4 separate regions of the Homo sapiens genome follow, and regions 1, 2 and 4 are each linked to region 3. Evidence: fine-mapped expression QTL. A gene starts in region 3. Each other region holds a variant in brackets. All regions are shown on one strand. Distances are between the middles of the regions.

Region 1 (4,163 bases), 56 kb before region 3:
CACACCTTTAAGATTCTGCCCTGCGCCGGGCGCGGTGGCTCACGCCTGTAATCCCAGCACTTTGGGAGGCCGAGGCGGGTGGATCACGAGGTCAGGAGATCAAGACCATCCTGGCTAACATGGTGAAACCCCGTCTCTACTAAAAGCACAAAAAATTAGCCGGGCCTGGTGGCGGGCGCCTGTAGTCCCAGTTGCTCAGGAGGCTGAGGCAGAAGAATGGCGTGAACCCGGGAGGCGGAGCTTGCAGTGAGCCGAGATCACGCCACTGTACTCCAGCCTGGGCGACAGAGCCAGATTCCGTCTCAAAAAAAAAAAAAAAAGAAAAGAAAAAGATTCTGCCCTGAAGTCCAAGTGAGCTACACAGGTCCAGTGTTTTCAAAAAAGAAGTCCCCAAACTCATGTTTTTATGTGACAGTTTCAGGTTTTTATTTTTTATTTTTTTATGTTTAATTGTTTTTAGACAGAGTCTCACTCTGTTGCCCAGGCTGGAGGGCAGTGGCACGACCTTGGCTCACTGCAACCTCTCCGCCTCCTGGGTTCAGGCGATTCTCCTGCCTCAGCCTCCCGAGTAGCTGGGACTACAGGCTTATGCCACCACGCCCTGCTGATTTTTGTGTTTTTAGTAAAGATGCGGTTTCACCAGGATGGTCTCCATCTCTTGACCTTGTGATCCGCCCACCTCGGCCTCCCAAAGTGCTGGGATTACAGGAGTGAGCCACTGCGCCCAGCCTATTTTTTATTTTTAAATTTCTTTTAGAGACAAGGTCTCATTTTGTTGACCAGAGCTGGAGTGCACTGGTGCAGTCATAGCTCACTGCAGACCTGAACCCCTGGGCTCAAGGGATTCGCAGGCACATGCCATGTGGGCCAGTTTCAGGTTTTTAAATGTTGTCGACTGTTTCAGTTATCTATTGCTGAGTAACAAATCACCTTAAAATCACAAATCACCAGGCCAGGCGCGGTGGCTCACGCCTGCAATCCCAGCACTTTGGGAGGCTGAGGCGGGCGGATCACGAGGTCAGGAGATTGAGACCATCCTGGCTAACACGGTGAAACCCCGTCTCTACTAAAAATACAAAAAATTAGCCGGGCGTGGTGGTGGCCGGTGCCTGTAGTCCCAGCTACTCAGGAGGCTGAGGCAGGAGAATGGTGTGAACCCAGGAGGCGGAGCTTGCAGTGAGTGGAGATTGCGCCATTGCCCTCCAGCCTGGGCAACACAGCGAGACTCCCATCACACACACACACACACAAAAATCACACATCCCCTTAATTAGTGGCTAAAATAGCAATGATGTATTATTTATGTTTTTTTACTATTATATATTTTTTAAAAATAGAGATGGGCTGGGTGCAGTGGCTCACGCCTATAATCCCAGCACTTTGGGAGGCCGAGGAGGGTAGATCTCCTAAGGTCAGGAGTTCTAGACCAGCCTGGTCAACATAGTGGACCCTGTCTCTACTAAAAACACAAAATTAGCCAGGCATGGTGGTGGGCACCTGTAATCCCAGCTACTCGGGAGGCTGAGGCAGGAGAATTGCTTGAACCCAGGAGGCGGAAGTTCCAGTGAGCTGAGATCAGTGTAGCCTGGGCAGCAGAGCAAGACTCCATCTCACACAAAAAAAAGAGATGGGGTCTCACTATGTTGCCCAGGCTGGTCTTGAACTCCTGGGCTCAAGTGATCTGCTCACCTATGCCTCCCAAAGGGCTGAGATTATAGGCATGACGCACCATGTCCAGCCAATGATGTATTATTTCTAATGACTTCGTTTTGGCTGGGTTCAGCTGGGCAGTTAGTTCTTCTGCTCCACTTAATACTGGCTGTGGTCACTCACATGGCTTCATTCAGCTGGGAGCTTGACAGAGGTCAGAACACTCAAGATGGCTTCATTCATAAGTCTAGTGCCTCTGCTGGGGTGGCTGGAAGGCTGGGGGTGTTGGCTGGGCCTCTCTTTTCATGGACTCTAGCCTAAGCTTCTTTCTTGAGTGGCTTGATCCCAAAACAGTGAAAATGGGAGCTGTCAGGCTTTGTAAGGCCTAGACCTAGATGTCACACATTATCATGTCCTCTACATTCCATTGGTCAAACCAAGATACATGTCTAGACCAGATTCAAGGGATAAGGAAATAAACTGTACCTCTTGGTGAAAGGCCTGACATGTATATACAGGAATGGGAGGAACTGTTGACAGCCATCTCTGCAGACAATCTACCACATGAACTAACTCATGTGTTTTTGTTTTTTGTTTTTGAGATGGAGTCTCGCCCTGTCGCCTAGGTTGGAGTGCAATGGCACGATCTCGGCTCACTGCAACCTCCGCCTCCCAGGTT[C/G]AAGCGATTCTTCTTCCTCAGCCTCCCAAGGAGCTGAGATTGCAGGTGCCCGCCACCACGCCTGGCTAATTTTTTTTTTTTTTTTTTTTTTTTTTTTTTTTGAGACGGAGTCTCGCTCTGTCGCCCAGGCTGGAGTGCAGTGGTGGAGTCTTGGCTCACTGCAAGCTCCGCCTCCTGGGTTCACGCCATTCTCCTGCCTCAGCCTCCAGAGTAGCTGGAACTACAGGTGCCTGCCACCACGCCTGGCTAATTTTTTTTTGTATTTTTAGTAGAGATGGGGTTTCATCATGTTGGCCAGGCTGGTCTCAAACGCCTGACCTTGTGATCTGCTGGCCTCAGCCTCCCAAAGTGCTGGGATTACAGGCGTGAGACACTGCGCCTGGCCTAGCTCATGCTTTTAAATAACGTATCTGTAGCTCAGTTTAGCCCAAGGTTGCAACTTCCTTTTTTTTTTTTTTTGAGACAGAGTATCTCTCTGTCGCCAGCCTGGAGTGCAGTGACCTGATCTCAGCTCACTGCAACTTCCATCTCCTGGGTTCAAGCAATTCCCTGCCTCAGCCTCCCAAGTAGCTAGGATTACAGGCGCCCACCACCATGCCTGGCTAATTTTTGTATATATATATTTTTTAGTAGAGACGGGGTTTCACCATCTTGGCCAGGCTAGTCTTGAACTCCTGACCTTGTGATCCACCTGCCTCAGCCTCCCAAAGTGCTGGGATTACAGGCGTGAGCCACCACACCCAGCCTCCTTTTATTTTTTTAATTTAAATTTTATTTTTTTGAGACAGAATCTTGCTGTGACGCCCAGGCTGGAGTGTAGTGGAGCAATCAGGGCTCACTGCAAACTCTGCCTCCTGAGTTCAAGCAATTCTCCTGTCTCAGCCTCCCGAGTAACTGGGATTGCAAGTGCCCACCACCACACCAGCTAATTTTTTGTATTTTTTGTATTTTTTTTTTTTTTAGTAGAGTAGGGGTTTTACCATGTTGGCCAGGCTGGTCTCGAACTCCTGACCTCAGGAGATTTGCCCGCCTCGGCCTCCCAAAGTGCTGGGATTACAGGTGTGAGCCACCGTGCCCGGCCATGCCCAACTAATTTTTGTGTTTTGTTTGTAGAGACGGGGTTTTGCCATGTTGACCAGTCTGGTCACAAACTCCTGGCCTCAAGTGATCCACCCGCCTCAGCCTCCCAAAGTGTTGGGATTACAGGCATGAGTAACCATGCCCAGCACAACTTTTTTTTTTTTTTTTTAAGACAAGGTCTCACTGCTGTCACCCAGGCAGGTGTGCAGTGGCACTATCACAGCTCATTGCAGACTCAACCTCTCAGGCTCAGGTGATCCTCCCACCTCATTTTTAGATTTTTTTTTTTTTTTTTTGTAGGGATGGGGTCTTACTATGTTGCCCAGGCTGGTCTGGAACTCCTGGGCTCAAGCAATACTCCTGCCTCGGTCTCTTAAAGTGTTGGGATTACAGGCGTGAGCCACTGCTCTGGGCCAAGGTTGCAACTTCTACTTGAAACTTTCAGGGAATTCACCTGGAAATGCAGGGGCTTTTTTTTTTTTTTTTTTTTTTTTTTTTTTTTTGAGACAGAGTCTCACTTTGCTGCCCAGGCTGGAGTGCGGTGGTGCGATCTTGGCTCACTGAAACCTCTGCCTCCCAGGTTCAAGCGATTCTCCTGCCTCAGCCTCCCAAGTAGCTGGGACTATAGGTGTGCACCACCATGCCTGGCTAATTTTGTATTTTTAGTAGAGACGAGGTTTCACCATGTTGGCCAGGCTGGTCTCGACCTCTTGACCTCAGGTGATCCTACTTTGGGATTGTTTCCACCCATCAG
Region 2 (4,163 bases), 73 kb after region 3:
GGTGAGCAACAACATGTTTGTGGAAAGACTCAATGCTGTAAAACTGTTATTTCTCCCCAGATTGATTTAATACTGTTTCCATCAAATCATAACAAAACTTTGCACACATTTCACCAAAAAAAAAAAAAAAAAAAAAAATTAGTGCCTAGATCCTATAAATCAATTAGGAGGACAAAAAATTCAATAGAAAAATGTTTAAAAATATGAACAGGTGCTGGGTGTGGCGGCTCATGCCTGTTAATTCCAGCACTTTGGGAGGCTGAGGTGGGCAGATCACTTGAGGTCAAGAGTTCAAGACCAGCCTGGCCAACATGGTGAAACCCCATCTCTACTAAAAATACAAAAGTTAGCCGGGCGTGGTGGCAGTCCTCTGTAATCATAGCTACTCAGGAGGCTGAGGTAGGAGAATCACTTGAACCCAGGAGGTGGAGGTTGCAATGAGCTGAGATCACACCACTGCACTCCAGCCTGGGCGACGGAGTGAGACACTGTCTCAAAAAACCAAACCAAACCAAAACAAAACAAACCATAAACAGGTATTTCACAGAAAACACAAATGGCCCATTAAATATATGAAAATATACTCACCTTCATTAGTAAAAAGGGGAAATGTAAATAAAACCACAAATTTTCATTTCATGCCCACTAGTTTGGAAAAAAATTAGAAGACTGACAAAATGCTGGTGAAATGTAACTATTAAACTGCAGTGGGACTAGAGGTGAGTACACTCACTTTGAAGAAAAGTTTTACATTATTTGGTAAAAGTGAACATTCACACACCCTGAGACCCAGCAGTTCTACTCCTGGAGATATGGATGGAATAGTCACAGAGCACTGTTTATTAGATCAAAAACAAAATAGCCCAAGTACCCATTACAGTAGAGTGAATAAATGAATTGTGGTTCAGTCACACAATAGAATACTATATTATAGTGGAACAGAAAACTATAGCTCCATACATTAACATGGATGTAGCTGATGATATTTTCCAGACGGCCACCACCATACAGCCCGTCTCATGTGCTCTTCTCACCTTTTGAGATGCCAGTGACATATTACATCTTTCTTGTAGTCCCACAGGTCCCTGAAACTGTTTTTTTTCCCCTCCTGCAGTCTATTTTCTCTCTGGTTCAGTTTCAGTCTATTTTCCCTGTGGTTCCAATCAGGTCATTTCTATTCTGTGTTTCAGTTCACGGATTCTTTCTTCTGTCCTCCCGTTCTTCTGTTGAGCACATCCACTGAGCTTTAAAATTTTAGTCATTGTCTTTTTCAGTTTGAGCATTTCCATTTGGTGCTGCATATGTTAACTAGCTTGATTTAGCCATTTCACAATGTCTACATATATCAAAACATCATTTGTATACCATAAGTATATATAATTTTTTTTTGGTCAACAAAAATAATAAAATTTCTATTTGGTTCTCTCTCTCTCTCTCTTCCTCCCTCTGTCCCTCTGTGCCAATGCCTGTAAGAATACTTTTTTATTGTTTTTGTTGAGACGGAGTCTCACTCTATCGCCCAGGCTGGAGTGCAGTGGCACGATCTAGGCTCACTGCAAGCTCTGCCTCCCGGCTTCATGCCATTCTCCTGCCTCAGCCTCCCAAGTAGCTGGGACTACAGGTGTCCGCCACCACGCCCGGCTAATTTTTTGTATTTTTAGTAGAGACGGGGTTTCACTGTGTTAGCCAGG[A/C]TGTTCTCGATCTCCCGACCTCGTGATTCGCCCGCCTCGGCCTCCCAAAGTGCTGGGATTACAGGCGTGAGCCACCGCGCCCGGCCAATTCCAGCACTTTGGGAGGCCGAGGCAGGTGGCTCACGAGGTCAGGAGATGGGGACCATCCTGGCTAACACAGTGAAACCCCGTCTCTACTAAAAATACAAAAAATTAGCCGGGCGTGGTGGCGGGCGCCTGTGGTCCCAGCTACTCGGGAGGCTGAGGCAGGAGAATGGGGTGAACCCGGGAGGCGGAGCTGGCAGTGAGCCGAGATGGCGCCACTGCACTCCAGCCTGGGCGACAGAGCAAGACTCCGTCTCAAAAAAAAAAAAAAAAAATTGCTGTGATTACAGGCATGAGCCACCGCTCCCGTCCTTGACTGGTGATTTTCTACTGAAACCCAGACATGTTAGGTATTACGAGACTCTGGGTCTTACTGAAACCTTGCTTCCCACGCTGCTACTCCAGCACAGGAGGGGAGGTGCTGCCGCGTTGCTGTGAGGTGGAGGCGGAAGTCCAGGTTCCCCACTCAGCACCCATGGACTCTAGAGAAGGGGGCACTGTGCCTTACTTTGGAGGGTGTGGGAGTCCTAGATTCTACTAGACCAGCACTGGCTGTGCGGGGTGGGGGTGTCACCTTACTGCTCTTTCATGGCCTCCACTTTCACCATATTCTCAGGATGGCAGTGACCTTGGAGTGGAGAGAGGGGATGTGATTGGGCAGGAGACGCAGGAGGCTTCAAAAGAACTGTGAATGTTTTATTTTGTAGTTGAGCAGTAGGTATACAGATGTTTCTTTCTTTCTTTCTTTCTTTCTTTCTTTCTTTCTTTCTTTCTTTCTTTCTTTGAGACAGAGCCTCGCTTTGTTGCCCAAGCTGGAGTGCAGTGGCACAATCTCGGCTCACTGCAACCTCTGCCTCCCAGGTTGAAGCGATCCTCCTCCCTGAGCTTCCTAAGTAGCTGGGATTACAGGCGTGCACCACCACGCCCAGCTAATTTTTTTGTATATTTAGTAGAGACGGGATTGCACCATGTTGGCCAGGCTTGTCTCAAATTTCTGACCTCAGGTGATTCACCTGCCTCTGCCTCCCAAAGTGCTGGGATTACAGGCATGAGCCACTGTGCCCAGCCGGTATACAGGTATTAATTTTATTATTATTATATATTACGGAATGTTTTAAAAACAGAAAAACCTAACCACAACAGAGTAGAAATATGCTGTGTTTAGAATATTTGTAACACAGTTAGCTGAGCTCCTCAGACATAGCAATATCCATCGTCTGTAGTATTAAGCACTATCCATGTGCCAGGTGCTGTGCCAAGCACTTCACACACATCATCTTATTTATCCCTCACCACACTCCTAGGGGACAGATACTAACCCACTTTACATACAAGGAAGCTCAGGCTCAAAGAGGTTAAGTCGCTTGCCCAGAATCACAGAGTAATATGTGGCTGAGGTGGGACGGGAGCCCAGGCCTGTCTGCAGAGACTGTATTCTTCAACCCACAGCATCCGAACAAGGATGAAACCAATTAATATCATTCATTGTAATCATGGCATGCCATGTCCTACCCACAGCTGATAAAATCCGACAGAAAGCATTAGACTCCCACAGGATGGGTAATATGTCTTGGGAGGACCTTGTGGGCAAAGTGAATACAAGTGGCAGCTGCACCCAAACAAGCCCAGGGTCAGGACCCACCCAGGTGAGCAGAGCTTGGAATTAGCCAGTGAGGCAGGAGCTGTGGCTGAGGCCTGTCCAGCCGTGTGGCAGGGCTGTGAAGGCAGGCAGAATAGCAAGGGAGGGACGCCAGAGATGGGGAACCATGAAAGATGTCTCGCCTCCTGTTTCAGAGGGAGGGATCCAACTCGCGGGGCAAGAGCGGCTGGAACTGGAGGGAGAGAATAGTGTCTGCAAGAGCAGAATACCAGACATCAGAGTTAGCAATCCAGGCAGGAGCCAGAACCCAGGGCCACAGAGAGCATGGTCTGCCCTGTCCCACCGCTTTCTCTGTGACACAGGGGAAAGAGGTTACAGAAATTGAGTGATAATGGCTAAGGTGAATCAGCCACGAACTATAGCCCTCTCAGGAGCTGCAGGCCCTGCCCTACCCAGCCTGCCCAACTGGTGGGTGGCAAAGACCTGTCCACCCACTAGGACAGGGCAAGAGGCAGAGCTACCAGTTAGGAGCTCACGTGGTCACTGTCCATGGGAATGGTGGTTCAGGCCAACAAAATCAGATTGTCCAGCGACAATTGTCAATTCCCACTGTAAGGCCACAGCCCTGGGATGGGAATCCTGGTTGGACTACAGCTCACAGTCAAGGTTGGAGTATTTGTGTAGCCCAGATTCAGGCTGAGTCCCTAGCAGCTGAGAGCCTGCCTAGGATACAGGAAGTGTAGTTGGGCATCTCTGGGTTTAGACATCAAACAAGGAAGGGCGGGGTG
Region 3 (4,163 bases):
GTGAACACAGGAGGCGGAGCTTGCAGTGAGCCGAGATCGCACCACTGCACTCCAGCCTGGGCGACACAGCAAGACTCCATCTCAAAAAAAAAAGACACGGCTGGATCCCTGCGTAAGGGATGGTTTGGCCCAGATGGTCCACTGCGGCTAAGGGCGGGGGTAGAGCAGAGGCCCCACCTCAGCTCAGGGCAGGGGACCCGCAGCTGGTTCAGCCACCTCAATGAATACAGAGGTTCCTGGGGCCTGTGAAGGCTAGAAAATGAAGGGGGCAGGGAAGCATGCCAGTGTGTGTTCTTCTGCCGCCTTCCCTTTGCCCATTTGATGCCTTCCACCTGGATCGCTATTGGGATCCTCTATCTAACCTCCTGGCTGTCCTTCAAGATTCATTTCAAGTCACTCCTTCAAGAAGGCTTTCCTGCCTAGAGGTGTTGCTTCCTCATGGAGGATCTTACCCTGTCATTTTCTGTGTCCCTGTTTGTCTCAAGAACAGGGACGCATCTGATTTATCTCTGTATCCTGTGCACCTAAAATAGAAGAGGCTTGGTAAATATTAAGTGCCACGAGCCCTCTTTTACTAAGGACCTGCCAACATGGGCCCCATTCACACTAATACCATGAAGATAGCCCTTTTCTATACTTCGTCATAAAAAAGTAATACACACACCCGGGCAGCAACTTCCACACAAACAACACATGTGCAAGGAGATCACCATTATTTCCAGCAAAATGCTCCCCAGGGCCGAGCGTGGTGGCTCACTCCTGTAGTCCCAGCACTTTGGGAGGCCAAGGTGGGCGGATTGTTTGAGCCTAGGAGTTTGAGACCAGCCTGGGCAATAGAGTGAGAACCCGTCTCTACAAAAAATACAAACATTAGTCTGGCATGATGGTGCACTCCTGTAGTCCTGGCTACTCCATAGGCTGAGATAGGAGGATGGCTTAAGCCCAAAAGGTGGAGGTTGCAGTGAGTGGAGATAGCACCACTGCGCACTCCAGTCTGGGTGACAGAGCCAGACCCTGTCTCAAAAAAAAAAAAAAAAACAAAAAAAAAAACAGCTCCCCAACAAGATAGCAGGCTACAACATGCATGTGATGAAGCTGATTTGAAGCGCTCAGTGAGAGGTATCTGCATCAAGTTGCAGGAGGAGAAGAGAGAAAGGAGAGATAATCATGTTCCTGAGGTCTCAGCCCTGGATCAGGAAATCATTGAAGTATTAACATATCCTGACATTAAGGAAATGCTGATGTTTTTGGACTTTGGCAGTCTGTCCAACCTGCAGGTCACTCAGCCAACAGTGGGGATGAATTTCAAAACGCCACGTGGAAGCTGTTTGAATCTTTTTGAGATACTGTAATATTTTCAATAAACCTGGGACAACAGCAAAAAAAAAAAAAAAAAAAAAAAGGCCCCAAGCAACAAGCAGTGTGTGTGGGGCTGATAGGAGTGAGGAAAGGAGGTCGGACAGTTATGCCAGCCCCTATCGAGAGTCCCAGCAATACAAAGAACAGGGCCAGGGTTTGCTCCAGGATTTCCCCAGTGGACTACAACTCCCGGAAGGCAGAGAAGTGGACTACAGCTCCCAGAAGGCTGCGCGACATACAGCCAGCCCGGTGCTCTCGTGAGGCGTGCCAGTCAGATTCCGCGGGAGAGCGGCAGAGATACCGCGATATTTGGGAGCGGCCCCGAGACGCGCCTGGCGCGGGTGAGCAGTGGAAGGGGGCTGGGAAGCTGGGTTCTCGCGGCGGCGCGGGAGGGGAGGTTCGGGGAGCTGTGTCCGCGAGCGTGGGTCCACGGCTGTCTGTGTGTGTCCTTATTTTCCCCTGTGTGCCCATGAAGCTCTGTTTGCGACTGTGCGTGGGTAGGCGGCCGTCCATCTGTGCGACCTCACTTTCCCGGCTGTACGGGTGGGGCCGCCTGGAGCAGGAGGGACCCCCGAGCCCTGAGTGGAGGGTTTGCATCTGTACCCGTCCAGCCCGACTTTGTGCTGCTCTGCGATTATTTGTCCAGTGTCGTTTAATCTAGTTTAAATGATGGCCGTGTCAGCTCCTCACACTGAACGCTTACCCGGGCTGCCCAAAGTACAAAGTGTATTTAAAAAGTTGGTAAAATTAAAAAAGGAAAGCCATGGGATGTTGGAAGTAGCCCTAGGCCTGCCAAAAAGTGCTGAGTGCTATTTAAAAATTAGGCCAAATCTTGTCAGAAAAGAACTTCCTGCTGTCCTTGAAGTATTTGGAAGCAGGTGCTAGATGGTGAGCAGGAGAGGTTGCCAAGTTGGGGAAGTGGTGGTTGTCCTGGAGCAGGGGTTTCCACATCTCTCACAGTGGCTGGGAAGTAGCAATTCGCAGTCACTGCCTTTCTAGTAGCCCACGTGTGTGAGTGTGTGTGTTAGATACATTTATCCCTCAGTATCCGCAGGGGATTGCTGTATACTTTTTTTTTTTGAGACAAGGTCTCATTCTGTGACCCAGGCTGGAGTGCAGTGGCAGGAACATGGCTCACTGCAGCCTCGACCTCCTGGGCTCAAGGGATCCTCCTGCCTCAGCCTCCTGTGTAGCTGGAACCACAGGCATAAACAACCATACCCGGCTAATTTTTATTTTATTTCATTTTTGTAGAGACAGGGTCTCACCATGTTGCCCAGGCTGGTCTCAAACTCCTGGCTCAAGCTATCCTCCTTCCTTGGCCTCTCAAAATGCTGGGATTACAGGTGTGAGCCACCACATCACCCTCCTGTATACTCTTTTTTCTTTTCTTTTTTTTTTTTTGAGTCAGGGTCTCACTCTTGTCTCCCAGGCTGGAGTGTAGTGGTGCAATCATAGCTCACTGCATCTTCGAACTCCCTGGGCTCAGATAATCCTCCCACCTCAGCCTCCCAGGTAGCTGGGACTGCAGGCACGTGCCACCACGCCCTCCATATAATTTAAATAATCTCTAGATTACTTATAAAACCTGATACAGTGTAAATGCTATGTAAATAGCTACACACTTTTTTTTTTTTGTGGTACTATTATTATATTTTGAAATGGTCTCTCTCTGTCACCCAGGCTGGAGTGCAGTGGCACAAACATGGCTCACTGCAGCCTTCTAGGCTCAAGCGATCCTCCTGCCTCAGCCTCCCAAGTAGTTGAGACCACAGGCATGTGCCACCACACCTCACTAACTTTTAAATTTTTTGTATGGGGTCTTGCTATGTTACCCAGGCTGGTCTCGAGTACCTGGGTTTGCTCAATCCTCCCACCTTGCCCTCTTAAATTGCTGGGATTACAGGTGTAAGCTGGAGCAGAAGCCTGGGCAGCCGGTAGTGAGGGGCTTTGATGTTAGGCTAAAGGATTCAGGCTCATAATGGATCTTGGATCCCTGCCTACCCACCACCCACTTCCCTTGTTTGGTTCTGCTTTGTCTTAGGCTCAGTTCTCATCCTTCCTGTATTGAGCTTGAACGTATACCCTGTCTGGCCTTGCTTTCCTTGCTCTGTCTTTAGTCTGGTTCTGTGCCAGCTCCACCTTTGCCCATATAGGGACTGGCAGGTATCCCTGAAACCTAAAACTCTGCCCTGAATTAAACTCATCAGAGGAGACTTAAACATCACAAGCTGAGGCTCTTTGCTCTGTCTGTCCCTGTCTTTCTGGAGGATAGAGAAGCTGCCATTTTTCTGGCTGTGGCTTACCTGCTTGGCTAGTGCCCTGGGATCTTGAGGCTCAGTAATCAAAGCGTGTAGCCCTATAACCTGCCCACTTGCCAACTCTTTTTGCTGCTCAGGAGTTCCTGTGAATTCAGCAGAGCCCGGGGAAGTCAGGTACTACAGCTACCTGTGCAAATAGGTGACTCCAACAGGTTCTGGTTACAGTAATAGACTTACTGGTTTGGAATTTGATCCTCTTTGCAAGCAAATGAAGGAATCCTGCCAGCCATCACCCTTCCTGGAATTCTCAGGTTGAACTGATTGGACCTCGCCTCCAAATGTTGGTTAAATGATCCACTTTCTATTCTTCAAGTATATTAAGCACACACATACACACACACACCCTCTTTTTTAGGAAGGTAGGTAGGTTTGATCCTTAGCACAGCTTTGCTAAGCAGGCTAAGTACTGTATTTCGGACTATAGTGCCTGCTGTGGGGAAGCAGTTGAAGTCACTAATACAGATTCCTGCCCCAAGTTTAACT
Region 4 (4,163 bases), 31 kb after region 3:
CCTCCTGAGTAGCTGGGACTACAGGCGCCCGCCACCACGCCCGGCTAATTTTTTTTTTGTATTTTTAATAGAGACGGAGTTTCACTGTGTTAGCCAGGATGGTCTCAATCTCCTGACCTCGTGATTCACCTGCCTCAGCCTCCCAAAGTGCTGGGATTACAGGCGTGAGCCATCGCACCTGGCCTGATTTTTTTTTTTTTTTTTTTTGTATTTTTAATAGAGACGGGGTTTCACCATGTTGGCCAGGCTGGTCTCGAACTCCTGACCTCATGATCTTCCTGCCTCGGCCTCCCAAAGTGCTGGAATTACAGGAGTGAGCCACCGTGCCCGGCCACCACTATTTATTACAACAGAATTGTAATTGTTAGTTTACTTTGTGTCCTCCTAACATTGGGTTCTCTTGGAGAGCAGGAGTTGTCCTGTTCCTTACAGAACCCAGTAAGTCACTCCAAGCTTGTACTGATCAAAAAAGTGGTGTGTGTGTTGGGGCTATTGGTTCCTGCTCCTTTCTGTGCAAGAGACAAAATTTAGCAACCACAAAAGCAAAGATTGATAAATTTGACTATAGAAAAATAGGTTCACTGAGCAACAACCCAAAGTCAAGGTCAAAGGACAACATGCTGGGGAAATTATCTGCAGCTCATAAACAAAGGGCTGATTCTCCTAATATATGAAGAACTCCTATGCATTGATGATAAAAAGACCAAGGGCCGGGCACAATAGCTCACACCTGTAATCCTAGCCCTTTGGGAGGCCGAGGTGGGTAGATTGCCTGAGCTCAAGGAGTTGAGACCCACCTGGCCTACCTGGTGAAACCCTGTCTCTACTAAAATACAAAAAATTAGCCAGACATGGTGGTGCATGCCTGTAGTCCCAGCTACTTGGGTGGCTCAGGCAGGAGAATTGCTTGAACCTGCGAGGCGGGGGTTGCAGTAAGCTGAGATCATGCCACTGAACTCCAGCCTGGGTGACTGAGCAAGATTCCATCTCAATAAAAAAAAAAAAAAAAAAAAAGAAAGAAAAAGAAAAAGGAAAAAAAGACCAAGAACATGTATTAAAAAGTGAGCAGAAGATACGAAGAATTCACATTAAAAACAAAAAAAAAAACAAAACCAAAAACCCAGTCACACAAAGGGCCCTTAAACAGCTACTCAGCCACATTCATGAGGAGAGTGGTGCAAATCAAGCTAGACCTAAAACTTTTGCCTGTTAGACTGGTGGGGGTGTGGGGAATTGGTGCCCTCATGCATTGCTGGTAGGAGCGTAAATTGATGGCAACTTCACTGGAGAACAATCTCGGAGTATCTATCAAAACTACGTATGCACCTTACCCTTTGACCCAGCAATTCTACTTCTAGGGATTTGTCCCACAGATACACTCACTTCTATGACATTATGTCTAAACAGATTTATTGCAGGCTTGTATATGGTACTGAAAGACCAGGCCAGGCACAGTGGCTCACGCCTGTAATCCCAGCATTTTGGGAGGCCAAGGCGGGCAGATTGGCTGAGCTCAGGAGTTTGAGACCAGCCTGGCAACATGGCGAAACCCCGTCTCTACTAAAAATACAAAGTCAGGTGTGATGGTGCATGCCTGTAATCCCAGCTACTCAGGAGGCTGAGGCAGGAGAATCGCTTCAACCTGGGAGGTGGAGGTTGCAGTGAGCCAAGATTGCACCACTGCACTTCAACCTAGGTGACAGAGAAAGACTCTGTCT[C/CA]AAAAAAAAAAAAAAAAAATTACATATGCACCTTACCCTTTGACCTAGCAATTCTGCTTCTAGGGATTTGTCCCACAGATACACTCAGTTGTATGACATTATGTCTGAACAGGAGATTTATTGCAGCCTCGCATATGGTGCTAAAAGACTGGAAACACCCTCACTATCTAACAGCCAGGAGATTGGATAAATAAATTAGTGTGTTCCTTCATACACTGGAACTCTACACAACCATAAAACAAAGTGTTGAGGAAGCTGATTTGGGAAGACTTCTGAGGTACATTGTTAAACAGAAAAAGCAAGGTGCAGAAGAATGTCACATGCATGCTTGTGCAGAAAAAATGGGGGTGGGGAAAGAAAAGGAGGATATATTCTTATTGGCTTGTGTGTGCATCAAATGCCTTTAAAAAGATAAACAGAGAAAAACATTGTCTATTGTTTTTCTCTTGGCAGGGGAACTAACTGAGTGGTTGAGAAACAAAGATAGGAGGCAGGCCAGGACTCCGTCTCAAAAAAAAAAAAAAAAAAGATAGGAGGTGACTTCATTTTTAATTGTTGGGCCAGATGAATATACTATCTACCACAAAATCAATAAATACATTTTAAAAAGAGTTCCTTGTGGTCAGGCACAGTGGCTCACACCTGTAATCCCAACACTTTGGGAGGCCAAGGCAGAGGGATTAGTTTAAGACCAGAAGTTTGAGACAGGCCTAGGCAACACAGTGAGACTCCATCTCTACCAAAAGAAACACAACTAACTGGACATGGTGGCACACGCCTGTATTCCCAGCTACTTAGGAGGCTGAGGTGGGAGGATTGCTTGAGCCCAGGAGTCCAAGGCTGCAGTGAGCTATGGTCATGCCAGTGCACTCCGGCCTGGGTGAGGAGTGAGACTCTGTCTCTAAAAAATTTAATAATAATAAATAAAAATATAAAAAGATTTTTCTGCTCTTTTTGTTTGTTTTTTAAGACAGGGCCTCACTCTGTCATCCAGGCTGGAGTGTAGTGGCACAATCACAGCTCACTGCAGACTTGACTTTCTGGGGCTCAAGTGATCCTCCCATCTTAGACTCCCGAGTAACTGGGACTACAGGCACCCGCCACCATGGCCCGGCTAATTTTTGTATTTTTGGTAGATACGGGGTTTCACCATGTTGGCCAGGCTAGTCTTGAACTCCTGGCCTTAAGTGATCCACCTGCCTCAGCCTCCCAAAGTGCTGGGATTACAGGTGTGAGCCTGGCCTCTTTCTGTTCTTTATCTGGAAGTTCTTAAAAATGATGGCAGGGAGTTACTGCAAACAAACACACAGACTTGGCAGAGGCATCTGGAAATTTTCTTTTTGTTTTTGAGACTGGGTTTCACTCCGTTACCTGGGCTGACTGCAGTGCAGCAGCACAATCACAGCTCACTGTAGCCTTGAACTCCAGGGCTCAGTTGATCCTCCCACCTTAGCCTCCCCAGTAGCTGAGACTACAGGCACATGACACCATGCCTGGCTAATTTTTTATTTTTTGCAGAGATGGGGTTTTACCATGTTGCCCAGGTTGGTCATGAACTCCTGGACTCAAGTGATGCTCCTGCCTTGGCCTCCCAAAGTGCTGTAATTACAGGCATGAGCCACGGTGCCTGGCCTGAAGATATTCATCAAGGCCTTTGGAGTAGAAATGGGTCTGCTTTTCTTGTCACAAGCTAACAGAGGAAAATGAATTTTGAGTATCCTTGTGTGCTTTTAATAAACCTTTGAGATCCCTGATCTCAAGGAACTTATGTTCTTATGGGAGAAAGATTCACAGTGATCAAATAACAGCAAACAATGAAAGTGAGACTGTGTGGCATGGACTCTACTTCAGAATTGAGCAGTCAGGATGGGTCCCCTGGACGGAACAGAACTTGGGCTGGGGCTTACAGGAGGACCAAGGATACAAAGGGTGAAGACATGCTGCCATGTGCTTGATGTAGGACACCCAGGGAGGAACTCCGGCTCCACGTGCTGGGGAGGTTGGGAGCTGTTCAGTAGGGGAGGCACATGGTGAGTGTGGCGTGCGGTCAAGATCAGCGGGGCGGTATGTGCAGGACAGATTGGGTCTGGATTGAGAAGCTGGAGTCTAGGAGGAAGCCAGGATGCTGAGAAGGGGAATCTAGGTTGTGCTGAAGGCCTTGACCACACCCCTGATTCTGGAAAAGGGGTGACAAAAGTAACAATGTGAAGAAAAATCAACACCATTAAAAACTGTAAAAACCACGGTCTTTTCCAAAGGTGGTGTGTACTAAAAACAAAACAAAACACAATATCCAACAAACAAACAAACAAAAAACAACCCACTGTCCTTGTGGCCAGTGGAGGGAGGGAGACTAAATGACACTGTATGTGTGTGTTGGTGCAAGATTTATAGCAATCTTCAGCCCCACCCATGAAAAATAATTTTGCTTTGCTTATTATAGTA

Direction of the effects. Positions count from the first base shown, and alleles are read on the strand shown. Sizes are in standard deviations (SD) of each study's normalised expression. Not every link is listed here.
In carriers of allele G in region 1, the expression in substantia nigra of the gene that starts at base 1,664 in region 3 tends to be higher than with C alone (moderate effect, 0.61 SD a copy in GTEx).
As copies of A replace C in region 2, the expression in cerebral cortex of the gene that starts at base 1,664 in region 3 goes up (small effect, 0.39 SD a copy in GTEx).

What was found. PIP is the estimated chance that this variant, and not a neighbour inherited with it, causes the effect. A credible set is the group of variants that fine-mapping cannot tell apart.
Region 1: its variant is the best candidate, but not a certain one, in a credible set for the expression of PPCDC in substantia nigra (GTEx, PIP 0.80).
Region 2: its variant is the best candidate, but not a certain one, in a credible set for the expression of PPCDC in cerebral cortex (GTEx, PIP 0.84).
Region 4: its variant is the best candidate, but not a certain one, in a credible set for the expression of PPCDC in whole blood (INTERVAL, PIP 0.57).

The regions. Positions count from the first base shown.
Region 1 is chr15:74,965,746-74,969,908 of GRCh38, forward strand. No RefSeq gene overlaps it. Among named protein-coding and RNA genes, the nearest start is that of RPP25, 11 kb to the left of the region's middle. The variant C/G (reference allele first, on the strand shown) is at 2,330.
Region 2 is chr15:75,094,696-75,098,858 of GRCh38, forward strand. No RefSeq gene overlaps it. Among named protein-coding and RNA genes, the nearest start is that of PPCDC, 73 kb to the left of the region's middle. The variant A/C (reference allele first, on the strand shown) is at 1,692.
Region 3 is chr15:75,021,927-75,026,089 of GRCh38, forward strand. PPCDC (phosphopantothenoylcysteine decarboxylase) reads left to right here and starts at 1,664. Exons shown (of 6, transcript NM_021823.5): 1 at 1,664-1,700.
Region 4 is chr15:75,052,552-75,056,714 of GRCh38, forward strand. No RefSeq gene overlaps it. Among named protein-coding and RNA genes, the nearest start is that of PPCDC, 31 kb to the left of the region's middle. The variant C/CA (reference allele first, on the strand shown) is at 1,719.